Linked DNA regions of Homo sapiens: all the other regions are reported to be linked to region 1. The links are microRNA targets in miRTarBase. Many come from high-throughput screens and were not tested one by one. Region 1 holds a microRNA gene; each other region holds the end of a gene's coding sequence. Distances are between the middles of the regions.

What was found. The annotated mature microRNA hsa-miR-155-5p reads UUAAUGCUAAUCGUGAUAGGGGUU and lies in region 1 at 2,046-2,069, opposite strand. An mRNA with a match to its seed (bases 2 to 7 or 8) in the 3' UTR can be bound and repressed. Matches are read on the target gene's strand: a 7mer-m8 pairs with bases 2 to 8, a 7mer-A1 pairs with bases 2 to 7 and ends in A, and an 8mer does both.
Region 2: the mRNA of SSH2 is a reported target of hsa-miR-155-5p. Seed matches in the 3' UTR shown: 7mer-A1 at 2,883-2,889 and 7mer-m8 at 3,983-3,989.
Region 3: the mRNA of DNAJB1 is a reported target of hsa-miR-155-5p. Seed matches in the 3' UTR shown: 8mer at 2,366-2,373.
Region 4: the mRNA of MECR is a reported target of hsa-miR-155-5p. Seed matches in the 3' UTR shown: 7mer-A1 at 2,310-2,316.
Region 5: miRTarBase lists ATP13A1 as a target of hsa-miR-155-5p. The part of its 3' UTR that is shown has no 7-base or 8-base seed match.
Region 6: miRTarBase lists MORC3 as a target of hsa-miR-155-5p. Seed matches in the 3' UTR shown: 8mer at 2,920-2,927.
Region 7: the mRNA of AGRN is a reported target of hsa-miR-155-5p. The part of its 3' UTR that is shown has no 7-base or 8-base seed match.

The regions. Positions count from the first base shown.
Region 1 is chr21:25,571,886-25,576,051 of GRCh38, reverse strand. MIR155 (microRNA 155) reads right to left here and starts at 2,072; the gene lies at 2,008-2,072. It overlaps MIR155HG (MIR155 host gene), which reads right to left. Exons shown (of 3, transcript NR_001458.3): 3 at 884-2,159. RefSeq lists an enhancer at 248-397 and a silencer at 1,949-2,128.
Region 2 is chr17:29,627,095-29,631,260 of GRCh38, reverse strand. SSH2 (slingshot protein phosphatase 2) reads left to right here. Exons shown (of 16, transcript NM_001282129.2): 16 at 1-4,166. The coding sequence ends at 420. Among named protein-coding and RNA genes, the nearest start is that of CORO6, 6.3 kb to the right of the region's middle.
Region 3 is chr19:14,512,423-14,516,588 of GRCh38, forward strand. DNAJB1 (DnaJ heat shock protein family (Hsp40) member B1) reads right to left here. Exons shown (of 3, transcript NM_006145.3): 2 at 4,044-4,166; 3 at 2,347-3,748. The coding sequence ends at 3,518. Among named protein-coding and RNA genes, the nearest start is that of DNAJB1, 3.9 kb to the right of the region's middle.
Region 4 is chr1:29,190,586-29,194,585 of GRCh38, forward strand. It overlaps MECR (mitochondrial trans-2-enoyl-CoA reductase), which reads right to left. Exons shown (of 10, transcript NM_016011.5): 10 at 2,072-3,594. The coding sequence ends at 3,437. Among named protein-coding and RNA genes, the nearest start is that of SRSF4, 11 kb to the left of the region's middle.
Region 5 is chr19:19,642,113-19,646,278 of GRCh38, reverse strand. ATP13A1 (ATPase 13A1) reads left to right here. Exons shown (of 26, transcript NM_020410.3): 23 at 1-74; 24 at 294-405; 25 at 489-632; 26 at 747-1,081. The coding sequence ends at 857. GMIP (GEM interacting protein) reads left to right here and starts at 2,622. Exons shown (of 21, transcript NM_016573.4): 1 at 2,622-2,768; 2 at 3,660-3,744. The coding sequence starts at 2,750. RefSeq lists a silencer at 2,529-2,778 and enhancers at 3,409-3,568, 2,790-3,745.
Region 6 is chr21:36,374,556-36,378,721 of GRCh38, reverse strand. MORC3 (MORC family CW-type zinc finger 3) reads right to left here. Exons shown (of 17, transcript NM_015358.3): 17 at 2,090-3,579. The coding sequence ends at 3,426. Among named protein-coding and RNA genes, the nearest start is that of CHAF1B, 8.8 kb to the left of the region's middle.
Region 7 is chr1:1,054,354-1,058,519 of GRCh38, reverse strand. It overlaps AGRN (agrin), which reads right to left. Exons shown (of 36, transcript NM_198576.4): 35 at 3,969-4,072; 36 at 2,404-3,696. The coding sequence ends at 3,539. Among named protein-coding and RNA genes, the nearest start is that of RNF223, 18 kb to the left of the region's middle. RefSeq lists a silencer at 3,903-4,085.

The sequences.
Region 1 (4,166 bases):
TTTCCAAAGCTTCATGTGAGTGTACCCAAATGCTCTTCAAATAAGGCATTTCCCAGCACAGCTTTTCTTTAAGTGCCTTTGTAATGTTTATAGCTTTTTATTGTAACAGCAGGAAGGTTATACTACAATAGTTTATTCCAGTCCTAATGTTCTATGACTTTGTGTCTTTAGGCAGCAAGCAGGATTTTGAAGAACTGGGACTCAAAGCAAGGAGTCCTCTTGTAGATATACAGTGGCAGATAAAATGAATTGAACAGACACTTTTTTTTTTTTTTGAGATGGAGTCTCACTCTGTCACCCAGGCTGGAGGGCAGTGGCACGATCTTCGTTCACTGTGAACTCCACCTCCTGGGTTCAAGTGATTCTTCTGCCCCAGCCTCCTGAGTATCTGGGATTACAGGCACGCACCACCATGCCTAGCTAATTTTTGTATTTTTAGTAGAGACGAGGTTTCACTATGTTGGCCAGGGTAGTGTAGAACTCCTGACCTCAAGTGAACCACCCGCCTTGGCCTCCCAAAGTGTTGGAATTATAGGCGTGAGCCACTGTGCCTGGCCTGAAGAAACACTCTTGAATGTGTTCTACCTACATGGGAGCTCCGTGGAGCCACAAGCTCATTCCAGGTGTTAGGAGAAGAAATTTGTGTTGGCAGCACATACAACTTGAACAGAAAGTGAGGAGAAGAAATTTGTCTTGGCAGCACATACAACTTGAACAGAAAGTGGGGCAAAGCCAAATGGGTATTCTTACATGAGAATACTGTGTCCTAGGAGTCAGGAATGTTCCCTTTAGTGTCCTCATAATTTTCTTCCATTGTCTTTTTTTGGCAGATAGCTTCTGGAATTATAATTTGTACTTTGCAAAAGAAAATGGGCCATAAAAATTATTTTAAATCAACTAAAGACTCATGAGATTTATTTGGTTACAGTGAATAACCTGGACAAAATGTTGAGAAGAGTTGTTAAAACAAGTTTACATTAAATATACTAACAATTACGTTTGGTTACATATTTGTAAGTGATGGTTATTTAGAAAAACTGCATAGAAATCCAAACCTTAAATATTCTGCAAATCAAATCATTAGCTTTTCTCTTCTCTAATAAAGTAGGGTGACTAGTTCTTGGATTAATCTAACTATAACATTAATGTAGCACTTGATTATCTTATGGAATAATTCTCTATCTCATCTAAGCCTCACAACAACCTTGTAAAGTATTATCCCCATATGGAGGAAGAAACAGGCTTAGAAGTGGAAAGGTAGATTCTCTGCTCGCACAACCGTATTATGTGGCTAAGCTATTGAACTTGAACCTAGATTTGGGACTTCATTTCAAATATGAAATTTTTTGATTAAATCTTTTTATCTTGTATGGAAAAAATATCTCATTAGCTGTCAGATGTTATTTACCCTGCTAACTGTTAAAAATATTTCATTAAAAAAATTCAGCTTCATAGCCTTTCAGTTTCCCTTTAAGAGTCAAATAAAAGTATTAATTTTAAACTGAAGTTGCCTGAACAGAAAATCGTTACCTGGGGGAAAGTACCAGTTTCTAAATCTTTTAAAAAACGTTGCCAGACAATCCATGATATAACTGGAGGTTAGTAGTCCTTCTAATTTTTAACTACAAAAATATTATAGAAATTTGTGTTTAGCCCACATTTCTAACAGTTGAATCAAAGGTGTTTATGAACATTATAATGAACAAGCCAAAACCTGCAATTAAGAATGACATGAATATATTTTCTGTTAATGATAAAAACAAACATGGGCTTGACATTTAAATGAAAATGTTTGCATTTAGGATACTACTGATAAATCTTTTAAATAACCTTACTTTCAAAACTTAGTTTAAGGTTGAACATCCCAGTGACCAGATTATGATTAACAGATTGAAAAATGATAAAGCCTGAAGTCTAAGTTTATCCAGCAGGGTGACTCATGCTTCTTTGTCATCCTCCCACGGCAGCAATTTGTTCCATGTGAATGCTAGTAACAGGCATCATACACTGTTAATGCTAATATGTAGGAGTCAGTTGGAGGCAAAAACCCCTATCACGATTAGCATTAACAGCATACAGCCTACAGCAAGCCTTCAGCACTCAGAGGATGAGGCATAAAGAATTTAAACCACAGATTTCCCCTTCCTGGTTTGTGCCACCTGCAAGAGAGAAAGAAATGTTTGTGTATGCACATGCGGTTATAAAGCTGGAGTGACAGCATATAGTAAATCTGAAAGGAAAATAGTCCATTTTCTGTTGAAAGGAAGGAGCTCATTAAATCCTTGGAAGTAATTTTTTGAAAGTGGTAGAGAAATTGGCAATTAAAAGATGACATTGTTACCTTTAGGCATATTTGAAGACTTTGAAAATTATGTTTTAAATTCTATTCTCTAGTTTTGAATCGGGTACACATATGTATCATCTTCTTTAAATAAAAAACAAAAACCGCTCTTCGGAGTTTTCAAATGCCAAAATGCAAAGAGGAAAGCTTGCATTCTGACACAGTACAGTTTTTTTTTTTTCTGATTTGTACTTCATCTAGGAGCTAGACAATTAAAGGCCCAAATGTTCAAAATAGTCCTTTATGATTTATGAAAATTAAAACCCAATTAACCTGTTTTATAAGGGTAGGGTTCAGGCTGAATTTTTCTTTCTGTAATACATAGTTGAAGTTTTACCTTTATTCTTTCAGGAAATGTGATACAAGCAATGGAGGTTTGCCTACAAACGAATCTATCTGAAAATGTCCCCGTCTACTATTTAGAGATTCCTTTGGGGAAAGCACTACCCAGTGGCTTTGGTTTTGACTACATAAAGGAAGTATGACTTAAAGAGTCCTCTGTGTTTCAAACTACTTGTCTTAGGCAGAGGGTTGATTAAAAAAAAGAACAAGATGAATTTGCTACTTCCTTTTAGAGTCTGATTTTACTCTCTCAGATAAAGTGACATTTCTCCCACAGGTTTCTGATTTCAGTGTTACTATAACAGAACCTAGAAGTTAGAGTATCATTCAAGTATGTGGTCTCCTGCAGTACAAGAGGGGAATCACCTTTTCTTTTATTTAATAATGAAACCAGCTAGATATAAAAATGTGACTAAGTTCAAAAGAAACGTATGAAGTAAAAAATTCCCCAGTGAATATATTTTGACAGGGCAGAATATCGTGGTTTGGAAATTTCCAAACCAAGGAAATATATTATTCTTACTGATAGTATTTTTTTTTAAACTTTACTGTTTTCTGAGATGAATTAGTTGATGATGAAAAAATTTGGGTTAAATGATGTCACTTCAGGAATTCAATTCATTTTACAGAATTTCAGTCAATAAAGATTGTAAAAACAAGGACTTTTTTTCCCCCTTACAGGGTCCTGGACACAGTAAATGCTCAATAAATACATATTAATAATGTAGTGTTAGTGCCACCCCAGCCAATATAACTCGCCCTTTTCTTAAAAGATGTGTTTAATTTGTATTGAAGGTAAATTGCTGGCATACTATTCTACCCATAAATTTTATTCCTGTTCTTTAAAGATAACATATGAGCACAGGTATTAAAATAAATATATTTAGTATACTAATTAGCTTTTTCCCTCTTTTTAAATATACATACGAATTGCCTGATTAGAGCACTCAGAAAAGTGACAGTGTTTTTGATAATGTGTTATATATATTAAAAATTCTAATAGCTTTTTTTATTTGTTCAAACTCTAAATGTATATTGAAATAAAACATGTCACACAGGTCCCCTTTTGTTCTCAAACACAACCTTGTCATACAGGCATGATGAATTCCGAACACTGCAGAGAAATGAGAAGTTTGTCTAAATATACTATAGAACCTTAGGTCATATTTAAAACACAATGATAGATGAAAAACATTAATGAACAGAAGAAAGGAGAAATATCCCAGAAAAAAAAAAAAATATATATATATATATATATATTCTACAATTTAAAAATAGTAGACTTTTAAGGACATTAGAATGACTAGAAGGTCATTCATTCATCAGTGTGGAGTCTATGTCCACTTCCAGTGTTTTTGACTGGGCTAAGCAACCAACAACAGAATTGCTATATGCCTGAGTGGGAATTAGTGGTCATAGACAACAAAGGCCAGTCTATTAGCCAAGGCACTGGGCAGAGGGTGCTTTCATGAGGTAATAAGAA
Region 2 (4,166 bases), not on the chromosome of region 1:
CATCTCAAACTGCTTCAGCCTTTCCTCAGAACAGACTCAGGCATGCACGCGATGGAGGACCAAGAGTCCCTAGAAAACCCAGGTGCCCCCCACAACCCAGAGCCCACCAAGTCTTTTGTAGAACAACTCACAACAACAGAGTGTATTGTGCAGAGCAAGCCAGTGGAGAGGCCCCTTGTGCAGTATGCCAAAGAATTTGGTTCTAGTCAGCAGTATTTGCTCCCCAGGGCAGGACTTGAATTGACTAGTTCTGAAGGAGGCCTTCCCGTGCTACAGACCCAGGGACTGCAGTGTGCATGCCCAGCTCCAGGGCTGGCCGTGGCACCCCGTCAGCAACACGGCAGAACTCACCCCCTTAGGAGACTGAAAAAGGCAAATGACAAAAAACGGACAACCAACCCCTTCTATAATACCATGTGATTCTGAGCCTACACATGTGACTTTCTAGAAGAAATGTTTGTAAAAGGGGCAGGTGTAATATGTAAGGAACATGCACTTTATTGGTTAATTTTATAATATTTTGGTCATTTTACTGTTTCTGGTGCATGCAGGGTTTGGGTGTTTTTCAGTGTGTATGTGTGTGTATATGTAAGGGGAAAGAGAGATTGATCTGGATGGCAAGACCGTTTATCATTTTTTATTTAAAAAAATCAAACCTCAAAAAAGTCATTTTCAGAGAACACCTTTATCAAAGGCAAATTGCTGTTTTTCAGTCAGCTGCCACCTGCTTCTCATTTTGCCCTCTGAGAAAAGGCATGGTTTCTTAATTGAGGGAAGGAAGCAGATTCGGAGGGGTGGAGATAAAGCTGGGGATTGGAGATGTTCCCCTGCCTTTGTGATGATGGTTTGGTTTCCAGACCTGAGGCATCGAATGGGCTAAAGGTCAGCCAGAAGTCAGAGGGCTCTCAGCCTTCATCCAGCCGCAGCCCTTTAGAGTTCCTGAAGGAGGCAGGTTCCGCTTTGCTTTAAAAGAGGGTCTTCCGGTGTTCCAGAGTGTATCGTTACAGTAAGACATGATAATGGCCGGCTCTGCAAATTTATCATATAGTTTTTTTCCCAAGAAAATTATTTTTGAAATTAAAACAGGACCCCAAATGAAATCCAAGTGGTCTTCTGTAGAGGAAAGCATGATAAGAGGAGGAAGACATAAAGTTGGGGGTGGAGAGGCTGCTGCCCAGAAACTGCTGGGTTGGTGGGATCCACACAGATGGGCATCTTGGCTCTCCCTGCCAGAAAAATGTGCTCTGCAGTGTCCTCCCAACTGAAAACAACAGTGACATGTTTGAAAAGCAGCAATCGAAAGTCAGTGTGTTCTTGTAAAATGAATATGTATGTAGGGTTTTAACCCTTCCATTACTTGAATAATTCTTTGGGCCTTCTGAGTTTAATGGCCATATTTTCTTCCAGTTTATTTTCCTTCCCCATGCTGTTGTCCCCATGCTGCCTATTTTTTTAAATTTCATAGATTATATTTGAATTGTTACATATGTTTAACATCCATTGAATGCAACGTTTTATTTTTGGTATTATCACTGTTAACACTTTTTTTTCCTTTTCCTGGAAGGTTTGTCATTTCTCTAAAGTTTGTACACAGTATTTATGTACATAATATTGTCACTGTCTTAGTGTCTTGTTCATGTTGTAGGGTAATTTTGATTTATTCTTTTTAAGAAGGAGTAGAGTTGCAACTGGAAAACACAGACACCAGAAATGAAAGTGTTGGGTGTTGATAGGAATCTGTACAATATGTTGATGGTGGCTGTAGTTGTTTAAATGGAGACTTCCAATCACCAGCTCCTGCCAAATTATGCATTAGTAACTTTTTCCTCAGAGACACCCCTAAAGGCTCCCATTAGGTCACAGCGTGACTGAAAGCTGATTTCTCTGTGAGACTGAAATCCCAGAACATTGTTTGCCAGTATCTCAACCACAGCCAGGAAGTATATGTGAGTTGCCCAGAGTGGAAGCTCCTAGTAGAGGCTGAAGGCCACAGGGGAGGCCTCAGCCAGGGGCAAGTGCCCACAGTGACTCCATTTAGGATGCTGTCGTTTTGCTACTGTTGTGGAGATCCTTAACGCAGCAGCGCCTGTCATAAACAAGCCTCTTGTAGCTTCTTACAGAAAACAGATTTAGTCTAGCATGAAACACCTCTGCATCTCATTGAAACTGAAGAGGCTTGCAGATTTGCTTTCGTTGATGTCCACGTTACTGAGGATTGACTGAGTATAGACTGGAGACAGGTTTTTGGCTTATCACAGCACTGAGGAAAATACAAATGCACAGACTGTCAGCATGATGTCAGAGGCCAGAGTTTGGTGGGGGCAGATGGCAGGGCGACCCAAAAGATGCAGAAAAGGTAGACTGGGGCCACTGGGTCTTAAGAGGAGCTGTGAAGTTGTGTGGAAGCCAAGGCTGGGTCTGACATCCCTGCCAGGAAGCAGGTTGGACAGAAACCACTTGCTAAAAGCGTCTCTATGGTGCAGTGATTATGTGTACCCTGTGCTGTTGCTCAGTAGTCTCCTTGAATGTTCAAGTATCTCATCCACTCAGTTTTGTGATTCCTGGATATTTGTGTGTTGTAAAGTGTTTTGTTAGGTGGTATGAACCAATGTGAGGAGGCTTGAGACAGGGTTATGGATTTCCAGAGCTCTTCCATGTAGAATACCCTGCCTTCTTGAAGCAGTTCCACCACCAATATGATGGGGAAGGGCAGGAACTTATGGCAGGGTGGGGAGAGGGTTTGCCTGGAAGTTAAGAGAGTGGCATCCACTTGTGGTAACCCCTTACGATGATGACATCCCACACACTAAGAGGTACAAGCAGGACCAAAGTTTTGGACTGTTCCCTCTTCTCCCCTCCACTGTGTTTAATGTTCACTCACTGCATTAAATAACAACAAAGATGGGACAAAACCCACTAATACTGTGGGGAAAAAAAATTTTCAAGAGCAGAGGAAAGTCTTTCTGCCTTTTTATAATTACTTTTTTTATCATTTAATTTACCTGCCTAAATAAACATCTTCTACAGAATATCTGTCATTCAACCATGCCAAGGAGTTTGTGCCAGCCTTTTCAGACTCCCAGAATTGGGTGTTCCTGGGTTATTTACATAGCTGAGCAGTGTCCAGGGGAGGTGCGCAGTGAACTGTCAAGGACTTTCCAGACTGTCTTCTCTTCAGACTTTTATAATCTCCAGTGGCATCTTTCCCTTTTCTTTTGTTCATGACCTGACCTGAAGCAGCAGATTTGATAGACTGGCAAAGATGAATAGGAAAAACTTTGACTCTTGCCCAGTGCCTGCCTGCCTCTCTCTCTCTCCTCTCTCTCTCTCTCTTTTTAAACCACCATAGACTCTCACTTATTTTGGAGGAGTGTATGTGCATGTGTACACATATGTACATATATAAAAACAGTTGATGTTTTGGTGTATGGGGTAAAAGCCCCAGGAGCATACAGAACTTGAGCTGAACCTGGTCAGTAGAAAGGGAAACCCCAACCCTTTCTTGATTTTTGGAGACACCCAGGACTAATGGATACTGTAGTAGACATGTAGTACTATAGTACCGTAATATTCATCTCTCCTCATTTTAGTTGCCTTTCAGATTCTAAATGTTTGGGATCATTCCTATCATCTTAGTCTCTTCAGGATCTTTAGTATTTTCCTGGTTCTGAGGAGGCTTGAGACAGGGTTATGGATTTCCTTGTTCTGTGTCTTTATCCCTACTGATAGTTCCTCTTTCTCATTTTGCAAACTACCCAGAGCTCCAAGGACAGCCTGAAGATCTCAGTGCCTCAGGCTCTGAGGTACTCTGCTCACAGGCCCCAGACAGATGCTGTTGGGTAAACTCAAAGCTTCCTATGAGAAGCTTCTGAGATGTAGCAGGTCACAGAAGTGTTCACCTGTTTCATCTGAGGATTTCAGTTCTGAAGTGATCTAGGCATGTTTGGTAAAAATGTTTTTGTGAGAGTTCTTTTTTTAAGAAAGCATTATGCAAAAAGTCACTTTTAAGGGCATTTAAAAATTTTTAAGTAAAGCCATTCTTTGGCTTTTTTGGACTATTTGTGGATACTTTGTTTACATTTTGAATATTAAAATGTGCATCATCTTGTCGGCCATGCAGTCCTGCAGGCATCAGTGCCCTGGCTGTCCTGTGAGTCCTCATGCAG
Region 3 (4,166 bases), not on the chromosome of region 1:
CCTGGACAACAGAGTGAAATCCTGTCTTCAAAAAAAGAAATTAAAAAAAAAATCCTGAGTGCGGTGGCTCACACCTGTAATCCCAGCACTTTGTGAGGCCGAGGGGGCGCCGATCACTTGAGGTCAGGAGTTTGAGGCCAGCCTGGCCAACATGGTGAAACCCCATCTCTATACTAAGAATACAAAAATTAGCCTGGCGTGGTGGCGCACGCCTGTAATCTCAGCTACTTGGAAGGCTGAGAATTGCTTGAACCTGGAAGGTGGAGATCGCAGTGAGCCGAGATTGCACCACCGCGCTCCAGCTTGGATAGAGCGAGACTCTGTCTGAAAAAAAAAAAAAAAAAAAACAAGCCCAAGACTTTGGGAAAAGTTTGCATGTGGGTGCACCAGATATCCGGCCAAGATAGACAAGCCAAGTAGTGGCCTTTGAGCAAAAAAATGCATGTGTGAAAGGTCTTTGGGCCCTTTTACCACCAAGATTTTCCCCTCAAAATCCCACCGTCCCACTCCTCACACTGCTACCTGGTAGGTTGCTTGGCCGTGTTTTTTGTGAAGTTCCCAGAATTGTATATACCTCAAGGCTTCGTGCACCTTTATGTTTGTGACACTTCAGTATGAAGTTCACAGGGACTTGGTGTATAATGGAGACTTGGGGGTGGGGATGGCAGCCCTGGGATTTGTGTCACCAATGAGGTCAGGTCAGTTCCGCAATAAATGTGACCTTGGCGTGTGGGATACTTTGGTAAACATCTCTTAGCTCTTGATATTCCAGGGTCACCTCCTGATTGGGCTGGCGTCTCCTGGCTTAATGTGGCTGCTCTTCAAAGTCACCCCTGCAATGTCTTTAGGGAAAAGCCCTCTAGACTTGACTTGTCCAACAGTTGCCACTGGCCACATACATGTGTGGCTGCTAAGCAACTGAAGTGTGGCAGGACTGAGGAACTGATTCTAATTTTATTGAATTTGTAAGATGTTTAAGTAAACGGTATATAGAACGTTCTAGTCATTGCAGAAAGTTCTCCTGGACTGGCAGGGCTGCCCCTAGCCTGTTTTCAGCGCTTCAACTGTTTCAGTGGGAAGGGAAAGCAACTCTTAGCTTGACACTTTTTTGTGAGACACAGCCTCGCTCTGTCACCCAGGCTGGAGTGCAGTGGTGGGATCTTTGCTCACTGCAACCTCTGCCTCCCATGTTCAAGTGATTCTCCTGCCTCAGCCTCCTGAGTAAATGGGACTACAGGTACGTGCACCACGCCTGGCTTTTTGTTTTAATAGAGACGGGGTTTCACCATGTTGGCCAGGCTGGTCTGAAACTCCTGACCTCAGGTGATCTGCCCGCCTTGGCCTCCCAAAGTGCTGGGATTACAGGTGTGAGCCACTGCGTCTGGCCCAGTTTGACTTTTGGATACTGTGTTTTAGTTTTTTTTTCTTGATACAGGGTCTCACTTTGTCACCCAGGTTGGAGTGCAGTGGCACAAACACAGCTTGCTACTGCCTCCACCTCTTGGGCTCAATTGATCCTCCTGCCTCAGTCCCATAAATAGCTGGCCCTACAGGTGTACGCTGCATTCTCCGGCTGAATTTTTAAATTTTGTAGAGATGGGGTTTCACAATGTTGTCTAGGCTGGTCTCAAACTCCTGAGCTCAAGGGATCTACCCACCTTGGCCTCCCAAAGTACTGGGATTACATGCCTGAGCCACTGCTCCTGGTCTATATACAGTGTTTCCACTTTAGAACATTTTGTAACAAAGCAGCAATACATTGTTTTAAGCCTGAGCAATTACTTTATAATAAAACCAGTTATTTTAAAGAAAGTTACAAAGTAAAAGCAGCTTTAGTAGCCTGCAAATAAAGCCAAGGCAGGAAATGGGTCCTCTCTACAGTGGGGCTAGTCCTGGGCAGGACCTTGAGCTCCGGTTTGGCCAGCCTTCAGGACGCCCAGCCCGTTCTAGCAGGGAAGGAGTGATAAGGAATTAAGAGGCCAGACCCTGGGTTGGCCCCTTGGCCCCAGAGCCAAGGTCTGCTGAAAAAGCCAGGGACCCTGAAGAAAGGCAGAATTAGGAGCCAGACCCTGCCTCTCCCCACCGCTACTTTGACTCCAACCTTCATCAAAAAATGATCCCCAAGGCCACTGTGCTTGGGTCTCTGGTTTTTTGGACCCCGAGTCTGGGTAGAAGTTCTCCAACCCACTTATGGCTGAGGAAGGGAGACTTACGTTTCCCTTGCAGGGCACTTGCCTCCTGCCCATCCCACCCTCTCACCTTGATTGAATTTGGAAGGATGCCCAGCTCCCCACTCCACCCCCAAAACCAGCAGAACCCTCAAACAGAGTCACAGGACCGCTCCCCTGAGGTTTAGCATCAGTCTTTAATGCTGTCGCACTTCATTGACTAGTCACACACTTTGGTCTCATGTTGGCAGTGGCAACTTACAATGAGTCTAAAGGTCTGAGCACTGGACTGGCCTCCAGGGAACAGACATTTGTTCCAACTCCCCTTCCCTCCCCAAGATTTCTTCAGAATTCCATTATGGCCCTATACAGAGAGCACTGGCTGCCGGGGACAGGTTTTGAGTGTACACCAACTATACATGGAATTATAAAAACATATTTACAGACGTTCCACAGTGCTCCTGTAATCAGAAGCAAAGACCCTTTTATCAAAAGGGATTGTATCTAGGGCTGTGCAAAATTCAAAAGGATCAGATCCCTTTGAAAGAGTCCATAGTCCATGAAACAAAAAATTACCTGGGCCACTGGTAAGCCCCACGTGTGCCAAGATTGCCTTACAGAAATGTAAAGAGTGTGACCCACAAAGTGAGGACATTCAGCTTCACTGGAGCCAGAGGTCAGGAAGGCCCCTTGCTGAGGCCAGGCTCCCAGACCATCAAGGGAGAGGTGGCTGCACTTGCTGGAGTCACTCACTGGAGGCTGGCTCCCTTGGTCCTGCTGGAACGAGAGGTATTGCTTGTGGACGCCAACCAGGCAGTTCTGCAGGAATAGTTTAGGTTCTCAATTTGAGATGGCCAAAGAGAAGACAGAATTCTCCAGGAGAAGAGCAAGACATGGGAGACAAATACAGAATAAAGCACAAACTGATCACACAACAGAAAAGGAGGAGTGTACAGGGTCTGGGAATCAAGACTGCAGGTTGACATTATCTACCAGCCAGAAGCAAAAAGACACAGAGGGATCAAGTCCATCTGCTGGTCTGCCTCTCACCCCTGGCCAGGGACTGGAGGTGGATGTGGGCCCATCCCGGGAGGGCTGCCAGACCCAGTGGGGCAGACTGGAATGCCTTTTCCTGCTGTTCCCACCACCTGATGCCCTATAGCTCGAAAAACCACTGAAGTCTAGTGTGCGACTTTGAAAGATTGTAATATATGCTCTGGAAAACATTCAGCAGTACGAAAGCCCTCCCTGGGCCCTCCCACCCTCTCATGGTCCACAACTGGTAGAAAGGTCCAGAAATCCTTGAGCTCTGGAAAGGTCCCTGGTCAGTCCTTGGGGAGCTCAGATAGCTATATTGGAAGAACCTGCTCAAGTACGGTTCTTGATGTCTGGGGAATCCTTTCGGGGAAGATCACTTCAAACTCAATAATGAGGTCCCCACGTTTCTCGGGTGTTTTGGGGAGGGGGAGGCCTTCTCCAGGAACTTTTCGCCGCATGCCAGGCCTGATAACATCTTTGAATACGACGGGTATCGTCCTGCCGTCCAGAGTGGGGACGTTCACTGTGCAGCCACACAGAGCCTTGAAAAGCAAAAGGACAGCATTAGATGGAAGCTGGCTCAAGAGGCTCAGCTCTTGCCCAGAGGCCGTCTGCCATAGATAAGACCCATCAGGCCTCTGCAGCTAAGACCTGGCCCCCAAATCTACACGTCCCCACCACGAAAGCTCCACAACAGCGCCCTGGTCAGTCCTGTTCACTGTTGTGCCCCAAGCCTGGCACGCACCACACACCCCAACACATTGGTTCAGCAAATACTAAACTGCTTCAAAAAGCAGCCATCGCCCTCTACAGACACCGCCCCACCTGGCACCTTACCTCCCGGAGGCTGATCCTGGCAGGATAAATGACATCAGAGCCATCTCTCTTAAAGATATTGTGGGGCTTGTCCTTTAAAACAAAGACGATATCAGCTGGAATGTTGTTGGAGGTCTGGTCTCC
Region 4 (4,000 bases), not on the chromosome of region 1:
GAGTTCGAGACCAGCCTGTCCAACATGGTGAAACGCTGTTTCTATTAAAAATAACAAAAACTAGCTGGGCGTGGTGGCAGGTAATCCCAGCTACTCGGGAGGCTGAGGCAGGAGAATCACTTGGACCTGGGAGGTGGAAATTGCAGTGAGCCGAGATTGCACCACTGCACTCCAACGTAGGTGACAGAGCAAGACTCCATCATCTCTCCAAATAAAAAAAAAAAAAAAAAAAAGAGGTTCCTAAGAAACTGACGCCTAACACCTCTGCTTACATCACTTGCGGGGGCAGATCTTGTTAGCTGCAAGGGATGCAGAGAAACAGTGTTTATTCCGGCCTGCCATGTACCCACCTAAAAGTTGTAGGTTTTAATTCTCAGGAAGAGAATGGAGAAAATGAGACAGTTCTAACATAAATACCCTGTCTCTGTAACTGCCTAATCTGCTCTCTTCGTCTGTAATGCTTGTCACCCTTCCCTGAATAAATTATAATCATCCTTTGAAGACCAGCCCAAATGTCACCTCCAGACCCCTAAAGGTACAAGGAATCATTGCCTTCACTGTTCTCAGGCATTCTGCACGTTCCTCCAGATCTTGAAGCGTGGTGTTACAAACATTCCTGTATGCCTGCTCTTAGAGTGGGCACCAGGGGCCTGCTCCTTCACCAGGACTCAGGCTCACCACTCTCCCTAAACCCCAACCTTATGGATTCCCCTTGAAGAATCCTATTTTTTTTTTTGAGACAGAGTCTCTCTCTCTTGCCCAGGCTGAAGTGCAGTGGCGTGATCTCAGCTCACTGCAACCTCCGCCTCCCAGGTTCAAGTGACTGTCCTGCCTCAGCCTCCTGAGTAGCTGGGACTACAGGCATGTACCAGCACGCCTGTCTAATTATAGGTGTGAGACACCTCACCTGGCCTAAAGAACCTAATCTTAATTTTACTCCTGTGGCCTCTGGCAGCCTTCCCTCCTTCTAAGGCTTTTTTCACTTGCCTGCACTGATCATCTGTACAATCACTTGTCCCACTAACCTAGAGGACAGGGACCAGGAAAGAGTTGGGGCTGATCTTGAGCCCAGAAGGTGGCAAATATTCCCCAGAGGGCAATGCAGACCTTTCCCAGCCCCAGGCTGAAGCTGAGTCCTTTTTTCCAGCGGACATAAAAGATGCTTCCAAAGAAAAGATGATTATGCTGGGAGTCCATGTTCAAACTGGCATGCAATTAAACCTTCTGGCCGGGTGTGGTGGCTTACGCCTGTAAACCCAGCACTTTGGGAGGCCGAGGTGGGTGGATCACGAGGTCAGGAGTTCAAGACCAGCCTGGCCAACATAGTGAAACCCCATCTCTACTAAAAATACAAAAATTAGCCAGGTGTGGTGGCATACACCTGTAGTCCCAGCCACTCGGGAGGCTGAGGAAGGAGAATCGCTTGAACCCAGGAGGTTGAGGCTGCAGCGAGCCAAGATCGCCCACTGCACACCAGCAAGGGCAACAGTGTGAGACTTCGTCTCAAAAAAAAAAACAAACATTCCGAGCCAGTTTTTTCCATATTGCTCCACTGCCTAAAATCCCTTGGTGCCTCCCTAGGGCTTCAGGGTAAGCCCTGACATCATGGTCCTTTGTGATCTGTACCTCACCCATGTCTCCCACCTCAGTTCCCACATTTCCCCCACGTCTAAGGCAGCAGCTACACTTGACTGCAGTTCCCTGAGTGCCAGGCTCTCAGGCCTCTAAACTCTCATGTGCTGTTGGCTTTGCTTGGTACGCAGTTTCCTGCTCGGTTTTCAAGACTGGCTGTGGGAGACACTTCCTCTAGGAATCCTTCCTTGATGCCCTCGGGCAGAACTGGGGCCCCTGTGTGTCCTCTCAAGGCCCTCTGAACACCTCCATGTCAGTGACCTCATCATTATACTATACTGGTCAATCTTGCACTAGGCTAAGCAACCTGAGGGCCAGCAGCACTTCTTTCATTGGTATCCTTAGCTTTGGGCACACACTAGGCACTCAATAAATACGTCCTGAATGAGGCTCCTGAGTGCAGGGTACAGAGGGCCAGGTGATAAGGGAGACACCCTGAAGCCTCTGTTCTTTGCTTTGAGCAAATGAATCGTGAAGCAAATACCAAAAAGTCACGTCAAGCTCTTCTCTCGGCCTGAATAAAGCTCACTCATTTGTGAGAGCCCACCTTCAAACTTCACCTCAAGGAAGCATACCCCTGTCCCTGGGGCCTAGGGCAAGATCTTTATTCTGCTCTTACAGCACCCCACATATCTTCTTTACAGCATTAGTCACTATGGTAATTACTGTGAGATTGTTTAATGCACGGTTTATCAACGACCTCATGAACATTGAACATTTGGGGCTAGATTTTTTTTTTTTTTTTGATATAGGGTCTTGCTCTGTTGCCTAGGCTGGAATGCAGTGGCATGATCATGGCTCACTGCAGTCTAGACCTCCCAGGCTCAGGTGATCCTCCCACCTCAACCTCCCGAGTAGCTGGGACTACAGGTGCACAGCACCATACCTGGCTAATGTTTGTATTTTTTGTAGAGATGGTGTTTCACCACGTTACCTAGGTTGACCTTGAACTCCTGGGCTCAAGTGATCCGCTTGCCTTGGCTTCCCAAAGTGCTGGGATTACAGGTGTGAGCCACCGCGCCAGGCCTTGGGTAATTCTTTGTTGCAGTAGACTGTTCTGTGTCCTGTGGTGGGTTTAACAGCAGCACTCACTCTGCCTGCTAGATGCCAGTAGCAACCTCCTTCATAAGCTGTGATAGCCAGAAATATCCCCAGACATTGTCAAATGTCTCCTGGGGGTAAAATTGCCTCTGGTTGAGAACCACTGGTATATTGTCTATGTCTCCAGTTAGAAGGGCAGTTCCATGAGAGTGAAGACCCCACGTCCAAGTTCCTCAGGGCCCTGATGACCTCAGCCTGGCATTCACTCTTCCATGCAGCTGATCCTCCCCAAGCCCTGGACTGGGCCGCAGGCTACCTGAGAAGCACATCAAAGCGTTTGTTCTACAGGACCCTCGTCTGTGGGCTTGTGCAGCTTGGGGCCAGGGATGGTGGCCTACTGGCCTTTGCACTGCCAGTACCCACCCAGGCTTTGCTTTCAGGGTGGTCAGAAAATGATTACTGGGGGAACACATGACAGAAAAGCAGGAAGGGGGCCTCTTGGTGCTGTGAGCTGACCAGTGCACAGTGTTGGTCCTTCTCGACAGGGATGACTTCTACTTTTTGGAAGGGAGAGTTCAGACTTTATTAGATACCTTAAGGCTGGCCCTGGGGAAAACCGTGGCTGGCTTCACCATCCTCCTAATAGGAAGAGGCAGTGAGGAGAACAGTAGTCTGGGGAAGGTGGGAGCCCCAACTGAGGGGCCTGCACCCAGCCCCTCAGATCCGCCTCCCCTCCCATGTCACTCCAGCTCTTTTGGGATGATCACATGGTGAGAATCTGCTTTGAAGATATGAAGGGCTTCATGGAGGCTTCCAAGGCAGACTGGTAGTCCTGCAGCGGGACCTGGGAGCAGGCAGGGGCTGTGAGCTGGCCTCGGCGGATGAGATCGCACAGTGTGAGGATCAGCTCCTTGAACTGGTCTGCGGGAGGTTGGAGGAAATCAGACAAGAGAACAGCAGCTGGGGCTTGGTGAGATGTGGCACGGGGCTGCCCTATGGGCAGGAGCTGGCACCAAGCTCCAATAAAGCCTTGAGAGTCCTGGCTGTGCCAAGGATAGGGTGGCTGTGGAGGCAGCCTGGTCCCTGCCTGTCTTTAGGACAGTGAGGTCAAGGTGGGGAGAGGGGAACATAGGAGCGGCTCTAGGGGCTGAGGGGCAGACAGGCAGAGACCACCCTTCAGAGTGGTGGCTAAGATGGCACAGACTCACAGAACCTGGCCACAGTGGAGACAGGAGCACTGAATGGTGGGAGGAAAAGGATGGCGGAGGCAGGGAGGCCAGAGGAGGCCCAGAGAGGGAGTGGGTATGCCTGGCACGCCAAGTGATGT
Region 5 (4,166 bases), not on the chromosome of region 1:
ATGCTCCAGTTCTTTGTGCACTTCCTGAGCCTTGTCTACCTGTACCGTGAGGCCCAGGCCCGGAGCCCCGAGAAGTAAGTGCTGCCTTGGAGGAGGTGATGTCCCTGCAGCTGAGAATAGCAGGAGGATGACTCCACAGACTTCAGCAGGAGAGGCTGGGGGTTGTCCAGGGTGTCCAGGGAGGGGCACTAGGCCAGGCAGAGCCCTAGCTCTGTGCCAGGGCAGCAGGAAGCCACACAGTGTGTGTGAGCCGGAGCAGGAGAGGGGGCCCTGACTCCCATGTGTCCTTGCAGGCAGGAGCAGTTCGTGGACTTGTACAAGGAGTTTGAGCCAAGCCTGGTCAACAGCACCGTCTACATCATGGCCATGGCCATGCAGATGGCCACCTTCGCCATCAATTACAAAGTAAGGCCTGGGCCCTGCCCAAACATTCACTGTCTGCCCACCCAGCCCCACCCCATGAAGCCATCTGTCCCTCATCCCCACAGGGCCCGCCCTTCATGGAGAGCCTGCCCGAGAACAAGCCCCTGGTGTGGAGTCTGGCAGTTTCACTCCTGGCCATCATTGGCCTGCTCCTCGGCTCCTCGCCCGACTTCAACAGCCAGTTTGGCCTCGTGGACATCCCTGTGGAGGTCAGTGGCCCTGTGGAGGTGACCCTGGGGCTCAGCTTGATGGGTCCCTCCTATGGCAGTGACCCTGAGCTGGGCTGCAGGTCTCCAGCTCACCATCCCTCCCTGCCCCGACAGTTCAAGCTGGTCATTGCCCAGGTCCTGCTCCTGGACTTCTGCCTGGCGCTCCTGGCCGACCGCGTCCTGCAGTTCTTCCTGGGGACCCCGAAGCTGAAAGTGCCTTCCTGAGATGGCAGTGCTGGTACCCACTGCCCACCCTGGCTGCCGCTGGGCGGGAACCCCAACAGGGCCCCGGGAGGGAACCCTGCCCCCAACCCCCCACAGCAAGGCTGTACAGTCTCGCCCTTGGAAGACTGAGCTGGGACCCCCACAGCCATCCGCTGGCTTGGCCAGCAGAACCAGCCCCAAGCCAGCACCTTTGGTAAATAAAGCAGCATCTGAGATTTTAAAAAGCCCTGCCTCCACCTCGTCTGTGCCACACGGTGTTTGCTGGGGGCTCGGGGACAGAGGGTCACTGAGGAAGGTCCCAGCACCCTCCCCACAGGCGTGTGATGTTGGTGAAACCCTCTGGCACTTTCAGCACTTGAACATGGACTTGTCCCTGCCCAGAGAATTCAGTGCATATTTTCTAGTTTAACAAGCACCCCCATATTTCTGAGGTCTCTTTCACATTTTAACAACTCAGGTGCTGAGAGAAGCCTTAGGATGTGTGATATTTTTTTCTTTCCCATAATACATAACAGCATGCCTTTCTCTCGGGTGGTGTCTGAGACTTGAGGAATATGATCTGCATCATTACAAGTATTGACTCTGTCCGGTGGCTCAAGCCTGTAATCCCAGCACTTTGGGAGGCCAAGGCGGGCCCATCACAAGGTCAGGAGATCGAGACCATCCTGGCTAACACAGTGAAACCCCATCTCTACTAAAAATACAAAAAATTAGCCAGGCATGGTGGCGAGTGCCTGTAGTCCCAGTTACTCGGGAGGCTGAGGCAGGAGAATGGCGTGAACCCAGGAGGTGGAGCTTGCAGTGAGCCGAGATAACGCCACTGCACTCCAGCCTGGGCAACAGAGCGAGACTCCAACTCAAAAGAAAAACAAACAAGTACTGACTCTGTCATGCTCTTTGGGGGCCTGCGCTGCTCTACCATCTCATGTCACAGTCAGGGAGCTCTGGCTGAGCATCAGCCAGGATGTGACCTGGAAACCTGGCTTGGCTCTTAGGTTGATAGTGTTATTCCTTTCAATGGACTCACTCATCACAACTCAAGAACTGCAGAGTAGGCAGCACGGAGCCAGTCAGAGAATCCTTGCCTCCTTAACAGCCAAAGCCTTTGGACACAAAGTTATAAACATACTTTAAAGTCTATTTCCAGCCCCAAAATTCCACTGTGCTGGGGGTGGGAGCATTTTTATAACAGGCGGCTTGTGGCAACCCCAGAGCTGGTGCTTTTGGACAAACCTCCACTCCCTACCTAAAAGGGCTGCTCCCTGGTGTGCTGTAATTGGGGCCTTGAGCCTGATCCAGCTTTGAGGGTCACGGAAGGGGCGTCCCCCAGGCCAGGGGTTCTCCAGCCCGAGTATTAGAATTTTGGTTGGAATCGGACAGAATATCAGGCCTCCACCAGGGGGCGCCATGGCTCCAGCGAGGCCCAGGTGGTTTCAGGGCTCCGAGAGACAACCTGGGCAAGGGGATCACCAGGGTCGCGGGTTGTGGGAGCTCCTGGGAGAGGCCCCCCGGGACAGGTGGACTCTGCAACCATTCAGGGAGGAGGGGGCTGGGGCTCCGTGGGATTTGGGGTAGCACAAAGATCTGAGAGGGAACCTATGGCCCAGATGAAGTCTTAGGATGCCCAGGTCAGGGGCACTGCAGCCTCGAGTGGTCGCTCAGGGGGCCCTGGCCCGACCCAGTTTCAAGCGGCTCAGGTAGAGAAGGGCACTATCAAGGCTTCCGGGCTACGGGGGCGTGGTCTGATGCGGGGGCGTGGCCTCCGCTGGGCAGGGCGACGCGGAACCGAGGCGGCGGCGGCGGCTGCGGCGGCAGGAAATCGGGGCTCGGCCCCGCCGGCGCGCGACCCCATCCCCATCCCGGTCCCTGCAGAGCGATCCCCGGGCCCAGATATGGACGCAGCAGAGCCGGGTAGGGGGTCGGGGATCCGGGAGGGGCCTCCCCCGACCATCCCCTGCTTCCTACATTGAGGGCACACACTTGTCCCGCTCCGTCCTGAGAGCCAGGAGAGGAGTTCCTGAATGGGAAGGACCCAGGGATCCTCCATTGTGGGGAGCCCTGTGCCCGGATGGGTTCAGGACCCCAGCCCTTCACTCCCCCTCCCCCTTTTGATCCCTCACCCCAGACGCCTGGGGGAGGGGGCCCAGGAAGGGGAAGTGACTGCTTCTGCTTCTGATTTTTGTGATGGGGGCAGGGTGCCACGACTGCTGAGGGAGAGGGCAACGCGGTAGGATCCCCACAGGGCCCCTCTGTAGCCCTGGGGAGTCGGCAGTGCTGGTCTAGGCCCCTTAGGAGAGGGGGCAGGGGGGCAGCAGTAGAAATGTGGCGGGGTCCGACTTGGTGTTTCCGGCCGTCTTTGTGTCTGTGTTGTGTATGTGGAGTGTCATTCGGTCTTTATGTCCCTCACGGCTTCAGTCTCTCCATGTGTGTTTCTGCCCCAGGCTCTGCCTGGCTGTCCCTTGTGTATTTCCATCTGTCTAGCCCGTGGTTCCATTGTCAGACCGGCTTTCTTCTCGGGACAGCCTGGTTGCATCTGGGGCATCTGTTTTGTTGGTTTGCTTCTGGGTGCAGGCAGACCCAGGGAGTGGGTGTCTCTGTTCCCCGAGCAGCTGTCTCTGGTCTCTGGTGGTGTGTGAGTCCATCTGCCTGCCTCGAGTTGGCCCCAACCAAGCCCCCCCCAGCCCTCTCTTTCTCTCTCTCACTCTTCCCTTTCTCTTCCACCCCCTCCAAATGAGACTGGTTGAGGTGCCGTGGGTGGAGGGAGGCAGTGGTTAGCCCATGTATTACACTCCCCTCCCCTAGGACTCCCCCCAGGTCCTGAGGGCAGGAAGAGGTACAGTGACATCTTCCGGAGCCTGGACAACCTCGAAATCTCACTGGGGAACGTGTGAGTCTGAGCCTGGATCACCCCCAAATCCTGCCAAGATGCCCCAAGCCCCTAACCATTTAGGTGCCTTGCAGTCCCATTTGGAACCTGTAACATCTGGACCTACATACCTAATAACCAGAGAAGTCTAGGATGGGACCCTCCAAAATGCCTCGGTATCCTAAAAGTGTCCCCCTAAATAGACTGGAAATCCCCAAAGTGGTCCTAGAACCCCTACATATCCTTGTAACCCCTTAAAATATTTGCGATCCCTATAATCCCACTCTATGAACCTCAAAGTTATCTGGGGCCCTTCAGATGCTTTTTCAAGTCCTATTTAAAAAAAACTCACCTGATTCCCCCAAAACACCATTCTTCAGACCTCCCAGACACAAGAGATGCCACAGAGGTGATGTTTGCCACAAACAACCCTAAGGTCCCCA
Region 6 (4,166 bases), 11 Mb from region 1:
GGTATGTATTAATCTTCACAGTATACTTTGAGACGGAGTCTCGCTCTGTCACCAGTCTGGAGTGCAGTGGTGTGATCTCGGCTCACTGCAACCTCTGCCTCCTGGGGTTAAGTGATTCTCCTGCCTCAGCCTCCCAAGTAGCTGGGATTACAGGAGCCCACCACCACGCCCAGCTAATTTTTGTATTTTTAGTAGAGATGGGGTTTTACCATGTTGGCCAGGATGGTCTCGATCTCCTGACCTCATGATCCACCCACCTTGGCCTCCCAAAGTGCTGGGATTACAGGCACGAGCCACTGCGCCCAGCCAGTATATTCTTTCTAACGAAAAGTAAGTAAGTAAGTAACCATTAGGAGCATATTCCTATGATGAAATGTTACTTAAGCTTTTTGAAAGAATGATATGGAAATGTTTAGTTATCAATTATATGGTATAATCCCACTGTGTAAATATCGACACAAATATACGCAATTTAATGTAAATAAAATACATACACATGAATGTGTGCATGTATGCACACAAAAGCCAATAGTGGTTACCTTTAGAGGCCGTGGAGAAAGTCTTTTCACTGTTCATTTACATCTCTACCGGGGCACCGCTCTGCTTCCCCTCCCTCCCCCTGCTTGCCCCAGTGAGAAAGTGGATATGCTGATCCCGTTTGTTTCGTGAACCACTCAAGTTCAACATTTATAAATACTCAACAGAAGACACAACTCAACAGTGCTTGGCTCTGATGGTGCACTGGAATTAACCCGGGAGGCCTTGAAAAATACTGTTATCTGGGTCTAACCCCAAGGACGCTGACTTAATTAACGTGAGGTGCAGCCTGACTTTGGGAGTTTAAAAAACTCCCCAAGTAATTCTACTACGCAGCCAGAGGTGAGAACTTAAATGATTCCTCAATGATGTATGACCCAAGTTTAAGACGTCTCATGTGACAGCAAGAATCAAGCGTCTGAGATCACAGGCAGCGTCACCAACTGGACCTGCCACATGAAGAATTTGAGGCCCAAAGGAAGCACACAGGGACGTGCCATGCCCTCCTGCTCTGTGTGCTCACTCAGCTTTCACTGATTTTGCCACCCTAGGTCCTGTTTGAAGACTGTGGACTGTTTTGGTTTACTTCCTCATACCTTTCGTGTTTTAAAGTAATAAACATTAGTTGAAGCAATACTGTCCCCCACATGCAACAAAAGAAAGAGAAAGGTACATACATCATGAAAGCCCACGTTGTTCTGTTAAACAACAGTTGTTCTGTCTGCAACTGTGAGCCACATTTTCGAAGTCTCATATCTTGGCAATACTTCAATATCTTCATAAAGAGCAAAAAGTATCTAAGTGCTTCCAAAGAATCAATTTAGCAAGCAAGTTTCTCTTACTAATCCCATGATTAATTTTCCCATCAAGCCAGACAGCTACAGGAAATATTTTTGCAAGAATACATAGAGAAGCTGGCCAAAAGGAAGGGAAAAATAGCAAATTCCAAAAAGAACCACTGCATGAGTTAGATATTCACAAAACTTACATATGATTTACATAGCTGCTATTATTTAGGCAAGGTTTCTCTAGAGTAAATGATTTATACAAAGAAAAGTCCTTTTTTTTTGAGACGGAGTTTCGCTCTTGTTGCCCAGGCTGGAGTGCAATGGTGTGATCTCGGCTCGCTGCAACCTCCACCTCCCAGGTTCAAGTGATTCTCCTGCCTCAGCCTCCTGAGTAGCTGGGATTACAGGCATGCATCACCACACCCGGCTAATTTTGTATTTTTAGCAGAGACGGCATTTCTCCATGTTAGTCAGGCTGGTCTTGAACTCCCGACCTCAGGTGATCCGCCCGCCTCGGCCTCCCAAAGTGCTGGGATTACAGGCGTGAGCCACTGCGCCAGGCTGAGAAAAAGCTTTTGAAAACAGAATATACATGCTCTGAGGAAAGAGGAGCTCAGCCTCAGTCTTAATGGAAACAGTCTTCAAAAAATAAACTGCAATTAAAGTAGTTAAAATGAGCTCAAGTTGAGGGTCTAATGAATACATTTTTAGTTTTAAAATAATTTGAGGTTAATATTAAGTCTTTAAAAGTAGCATTTGAACAGTTAGCCATCATATATTTTTATTTTATTATAAGATATTTTAAAATTTGGGAAATTACAATTGTGACAGAAAACCAGCTTCATACCAAAAATACACTTTCAATTACTTTATCAGGCAAATAAAAACAATCTTCATTTATTTGCTCTTTCCAGAATTACTATACAGTAAAAATTCAATACTGTATATGACCGACACGTATTAAGCATACATACAAAATGAACGGATTGAATGTTCAAAAACAAAGGTAAAAATAAATAGCAATGATAAAACTTTGGAAAAAATAATGCACATTTTAGTTGTGGAAAATATGGTTCTTATATATACATAGTTTATACTTAATAGAAAGCCATCTCTTTAAAATTGCACAAAACATGGGACCAATAAAGCATAGTATTTTATGGCATGTAATACTATAATCCTAAGGAAATTTGTTCCTTGACTCTAGGATATAAAACACTTAGGTTTGTAATATAATAAAAGGTATGTAGTATTGTTTGAGAAAGACTGTCTTCCTCAACTCACATTAACCTGTAGTAATCCTACAAAAGGCTGTACAGGAAATTTCACAAAAAGAAATATTAAAAAATTATCATGCCCACTTCATGCTGACTAAACAGCCAAAAATGGGCTTCAAAGTAAACTTGGTGGCCATTTAATATTTCAATACCTTTTTTCTGTTAAAGACTGTTTCTTCATTCTATAAAAACACTTTGTGTTTAACCGTGATTGGCAATCTCAGCACAACAAAATCCTGGCAAAATGGAGTTGGTTTTTGCTTACCTTATTTTCATGAATAAAATATTTCAGGACAGGAATTTATACAAAAGAAACATTAATGCTCAATTCACTTATAACCAGAGTTGTATCAGGAGTGTTACTACATTATTTAAAAATCCTATTTAAACTCCTTTATAAGAAAATCAAAGGTAACATTTCCATTTGTATTATGGCATAGCCCTCGACTTAGAGAAAAATACACTTTGGGGAACCAGAAAAAATTGCACAAAGCTTAGGGGCAACCTGAAAAGCTCTTGGTGAAAAACACTTGAGTACTCTAGGGCAATAAAAAAATATGTGCAGGCTTAATTACAAATATTTACATTCAAAACAGAGTCATGAGTTAGCTTCAGCTGCTCAATGCCAACAATTCACAGGTATTTCAAAACATAAGATAATGTGTCCACAATATTTGTGACCACATTTGAATGCATAGAATACAGTAAAGATTATGGTTTTCAGTCTGTTGCCTATCATATCTATAAAACAAAATTAATTATATTTTGAAAGCTGTACAACCAAAAGAATTGAGCAAATATTTTATCTTACATAACATATACTTTAAGTACTACTGATTTCACTCATTTGTTCAACAACTTGTCCTAAAATCTCATCAACTACATCAACATCGTAATTCACTTGCTGAAGATCAAGATCAGGCACAATCATAGCCAGCAGTTGTCCTACGTTAACTCGAAGAGATCGGAGTTTGAGGCTGCAAATACAAATATGTAACTTATTAGATGAGCATTACAAGTTAAGATTCATGTAGACCTTAAAAAGTAAAATATCAAAATCAAATCTCCGTAGAATAATATACAATTAAACAAAAGGAAAAGCAAAACCTCCCCTAGAGAACTCAATTTACTTTAATAATTCACTTTTATGAGTCAGGTGCACTTGCCCATGCCTGTATTCCCAGCATTTGTGAAGCCGAGGAGGGAGATCGCTGGAGCCCAGGAGTTCGAGACCAGCCTGGCCAACATGGTGAAACCCTGACTCTACTAAAAACACAAAATATTAGCCGGGCTTGGTGACGACACCTGTAGTCTCAGCTTCTCAAGAGGGTGAGGTGGGGGATCACCTGAGCCCAGGAGGTCAAGGCTGCAGTGAGCTGCGATGGCACCACTGCTCTCCAGGGTTCACGCAATTCTCCCACCTCAGCCTCCTGAGTAGCTGGAAGCACAGGCCCACACCACCATGCCCGGTTAATTTTTATTATTATTATTTGTAGCAATGGGGTTTCACTATATTGCCCAGGCTGGTCTCAAACTCCTGGGCTCAATCAAGCATTCTGCCCAC
Region 7 (4,166 bases), not on the chromosome of region 1:
CTCTGTCCTGCACGCTGGCCTCTGGCCGCTCCTACGCCTCCGCTTCCTGCTGAAAGATCCCTTTGTCAAGCCACAGGGCCCTGCACACCGTCCAATGGACCCACACCACATGCCCCGCCTCTGGCCTCCTCACCTGCCCTCCCCCTGCTCATGCTTCGGGTCTGGGTTTGGGCGTGTTTTCTCTGGACCTTTCCTGAAAACCAAAGTTAGTCTGCCCCCACCCTGGCCCCCCACCGTCAGCGACCTGTGTGTGGCCACCGCTCCTGGACTCTCTCCTCCCCGACCCCCAGTGCCTGACACCTGCCAGGCACACAGGGTCGGTCAGCATATCCCCAGAGGACCAGGTGATGAAAAGCCCAGAAAGCAAACACTCAGACGCATGGGACCTCCTGGGTGTGGAGCTTGTGGGTATTATCTTTTCATTTTTTTTTTGAAACGGAGTCGCGCTCTGTCGCCCACGCTGGAGTGCAGTGGTGCAATCGCGGCTCACTGCAACCTCCGCCTCCCGGGTTCAAGCGATTCTCGTGCCTCAGCCTCCCGAGTAACTGGGATTACAGATACCTGCCACCACGCCCAGATGTTTGTGTTTTTAGTAGATACAGGGTTTCACCATGTTGGCCAGTCTGGTGTTGAACTCCTGACCTCAGGTGATCCGCCTGCCTCAGCCTCCCAAAGTGCTGGGATTATAGGCATGAGCCAATGTGCCCAGCCATTGGTGTTATTTTATTTCGATGTTTTTGTGGTTTTCTTTTTTCTTTTTTTTTTTGAGACGGAGTCTCCTTCAGCCACTGAGGCTGGAGTGCAATGGCGTGATCTCGGCTCACTGCAACCACCGTCTCCTGGGTTCAAGCAATTCTCCCGTCTCAGCCTCCGGAGTAGCTGGGACTACAGGCACCCACCATCATGCCCAGCCAGTTTTTGTATTTTAGGAGAGACAGGGTTTCACCATGTTGGCCAGGCTCGTCTTGAACTCCTGACCTCAGGTGATCCACCCGCCTCGGCCTCCCAAAGTGCTAGGATTACAGGTGTGAGCCAGCGCACCTGGCTTTTTTTTTAAAATCATTAATACAAAATAGAAAACTACACTTAGTTATTTTTCATAAGAGACAGCAGTTTGCGAAGGGCCACCCAGCTGGCCACACACCCTACCCCTTCTTCCCCTGCTTCTCCCCAGGGCTCACATCTGCCGGTGCTGGGTGCCAGCTCTGTTTTTTAGACAGGTTCTCGCTCTGTCACCCAGGCTGGAGTGCAGTGGTGCAATCACAGCTTGCTGCTGCCTCAACCTCCTGGATTCAAGTGATCCTCCTGCCTCAGCCTCCGGAGTAGCTGGAGCTACAGGTGTGTACCACCACGCCTGGCTAATTAAAGAAATTTTTTTGCAGAGATGGGGTCTCACTATGTTGCCCAAGCTGATCTCCCACTCTTGGCCTCAAGCGATCCTCCAGCCTCAGCCTCCCAAAGTGCTGGGATGACAGGTGTGAGCCACCGCGCCCTTCCCTGAGGCTCAGCTTCTGCAGTGCTGTCACCCACACACTAATTTAGGAAGCAGGTTAGAGGGAGTCCAGGAGCCCAGCTACCCCAGGGGTTTCTAGTTAGGGGCTTCCAGCAGTGCCAAGGGTTGGTTCTGCACACCTGGGCCAGTGAAAAGGCTGCCCAACAGCCCCACGCACCCTGGCTCCCCCCAGACCCTTCCAGTCCTGGGTGCAGCCTCCTCCCAACCCTGTGCTCTGACACAGATGTGGGCCAATTATGTGTGCAGGCACACACACACACACACACACGTGCACGCCAGAGAGCAGGCACACACACCCACACATACACGCCGGAGAGCAGGCACACGCACCCACACACGTACATGCACCCACACATGCACGCCGGAGAGCAAGCACACGCACCCACACGCACACGCACCCACACATACACGCCGGAGAGCAGGCACACGCACCCACACACACGTACATGCACCCATACATGCACGCCGGAGAGCAGGCACACGCACCCACACCCACACGTACCCACACGTGCACGCCAGAGAGCAGGCACACGCACCCACACGCACATGCACCCACACGTACCCGCACCCACACGTACCCGCACCCACACGTGCACGCCAGAGAGCAGGCACATGCACCCACACGTACCCGCACCCACACACACACACCCCCACACGTACACGCACCCACACGTGCACGCCAGAGAGCCTCCTGCCTCCACGGCCCCGCCTCCCACAGTGCTCAGCAGTGTGTGCTCCCCACTCAGGGCCTCATCAGCCACAAGGATCCCTGTGCAGGGCCTGGCTCCATCCAGGGCCACCCAAGGGAGCTCCAAGTCCGTGCTCCCACCACAAAGCGGAGCAAGAAGCCAACGGGCCAGCGCGCTGGTGAGGATGGACAAAAGCAATGCTTTTAAAGTTTTCAGACTTTATTTCACAGCGATTGACACAGAAACATACTAGAGTTAGTAACACGGCACCCAGCCCCACCGCCGCCCGCTTCATCGGGTCCTGCTCCTAGGAGGACTGGGCTGGGGCTGGGGGTGGGGATGGGATGGGGGTGGGGAAGGGACGGGACGTTGCAGTTTAAGGCATTTCTGGCTTCGGAGCCATCCCTGCCACCTCTGCACCTGCCCCTTGACCTTGGTCAGACACTGGCTGGCCCCTGGTCATTCTGAGACAAGGACGACTTTCACTGACGCTGTGGGGAGGATTTGCAGTGAGGCAGCCCTCAGCCGCTCTCAGGCGAGATGGGAAAGATGAGACCCACCACTCCAGGGGTCAAATAAAATCAACACATGAAGAACACAGCCATGGCCAGGCCCAGATACCCAGGCAGGCGGCAGAGGTCAACCCCATCCCACAGTGAGCTCCTCTCGATAGCCCCTCGCAGGGCCTGGGGTGTGGCAGAGGGATACGGTCACGTCCAGGGTGGCTGGGCAGGGCCAGCTGAGGGTCAGGACACCCAGATCGGCCCTGGTCTGGCCTCTGCTCCTCAGCAGCCTGGGGCTGGCGCAGGCAGCACGGGAGCAACGCAGAGCTGTGCCCAGCAGTAACATTGTTTGGAAGTCACAGTATTGGCGCAGGAGGCCGAGGCAGGGCCCAGAGCACACACAGGAAGGAGCAGCTCAAATGGGGGCTTGGAAAGGCCCTGTGGGGTCACCCGGAGGAAGGGCCCCATCAGACCTCAGCAGCCCCTTCCTCTCTGGGACACGAGTCCCGCCTGACGGAGCGAGGGTGATTCAGGAGCCGGGGCTGCTTCCCGGCGGGGACACCGTGGGGCAGGCGCAGTGCAAGGCGGGGGCTCAGCACCTTGAGGCAGGGGTGTGTGTCCTGAGGCTGCCATCCACGCCGAGCCCTCCACGCTGCCACCTCGCCTGTCCATCCCTCGGCACTAGGTCTGTCTGCAGCACGGCTGCCTGGACGGAAGGGAGGCCGGGCCAGCAGTCCCTCCGGCCAACACTCAGGCAAGAAAATCATATCAAAAAGCAACAAGTTTACAAAAATAGAAAATAATTACAGCGGGCGCGGGGCTCTGGTGCCAGCTCATGGGGTGGGGCAGGGCCGCAGCTCTGGCTTGGTGACGGCGTCCTCCAGCAGGTGCAGCGGGTGCCGGCCCACCACCACGTCCCGCAAGCAGCCCACAAAGCCTGTGCCGTAGGCCTTGGGCAGTGCTGGGCCCACGGGCAGCTCCGGCAGGCCCCCTGCAGCACAGACAGTGGGAGTCACCCGGCTGTGACTCAGTGATGCTGATGGGCACCCCAACGAGCAGGTGACCAGCAGGGGGCCCACACCTGGGCACCCGCCTCCCGGCCCCACAGCACTGGGAACTGCAGGGGCTACAGCGGGAGAAGAGAGCCCAGCCCGCCGGCTCACATGCACCCTGACTCAAGGGTGGGCGCTGGGGGGTGGAGTCTGTCCCTCGGATATCATGAGACCCTTGGGCATCCCTCTCTAGTCTCCCCAAAACACTCACCAAGCCACAGGGCTCCATCAGTGTCCAGCTGCGTGGCGCCCAGCGGGGAGGAGCCGGTCACAGGGGCCTCATTGCCCACCTGCAGGGAACCTTCCCTCTGCTCCCTGGGTGTGCAGGGAGGGGGAGACCATCAGGGCCCAGAGTTCCCTCTGCCTCCTCTAGACCATAAGCCCTGCATCCTTCCTATGCCCTGCAGGT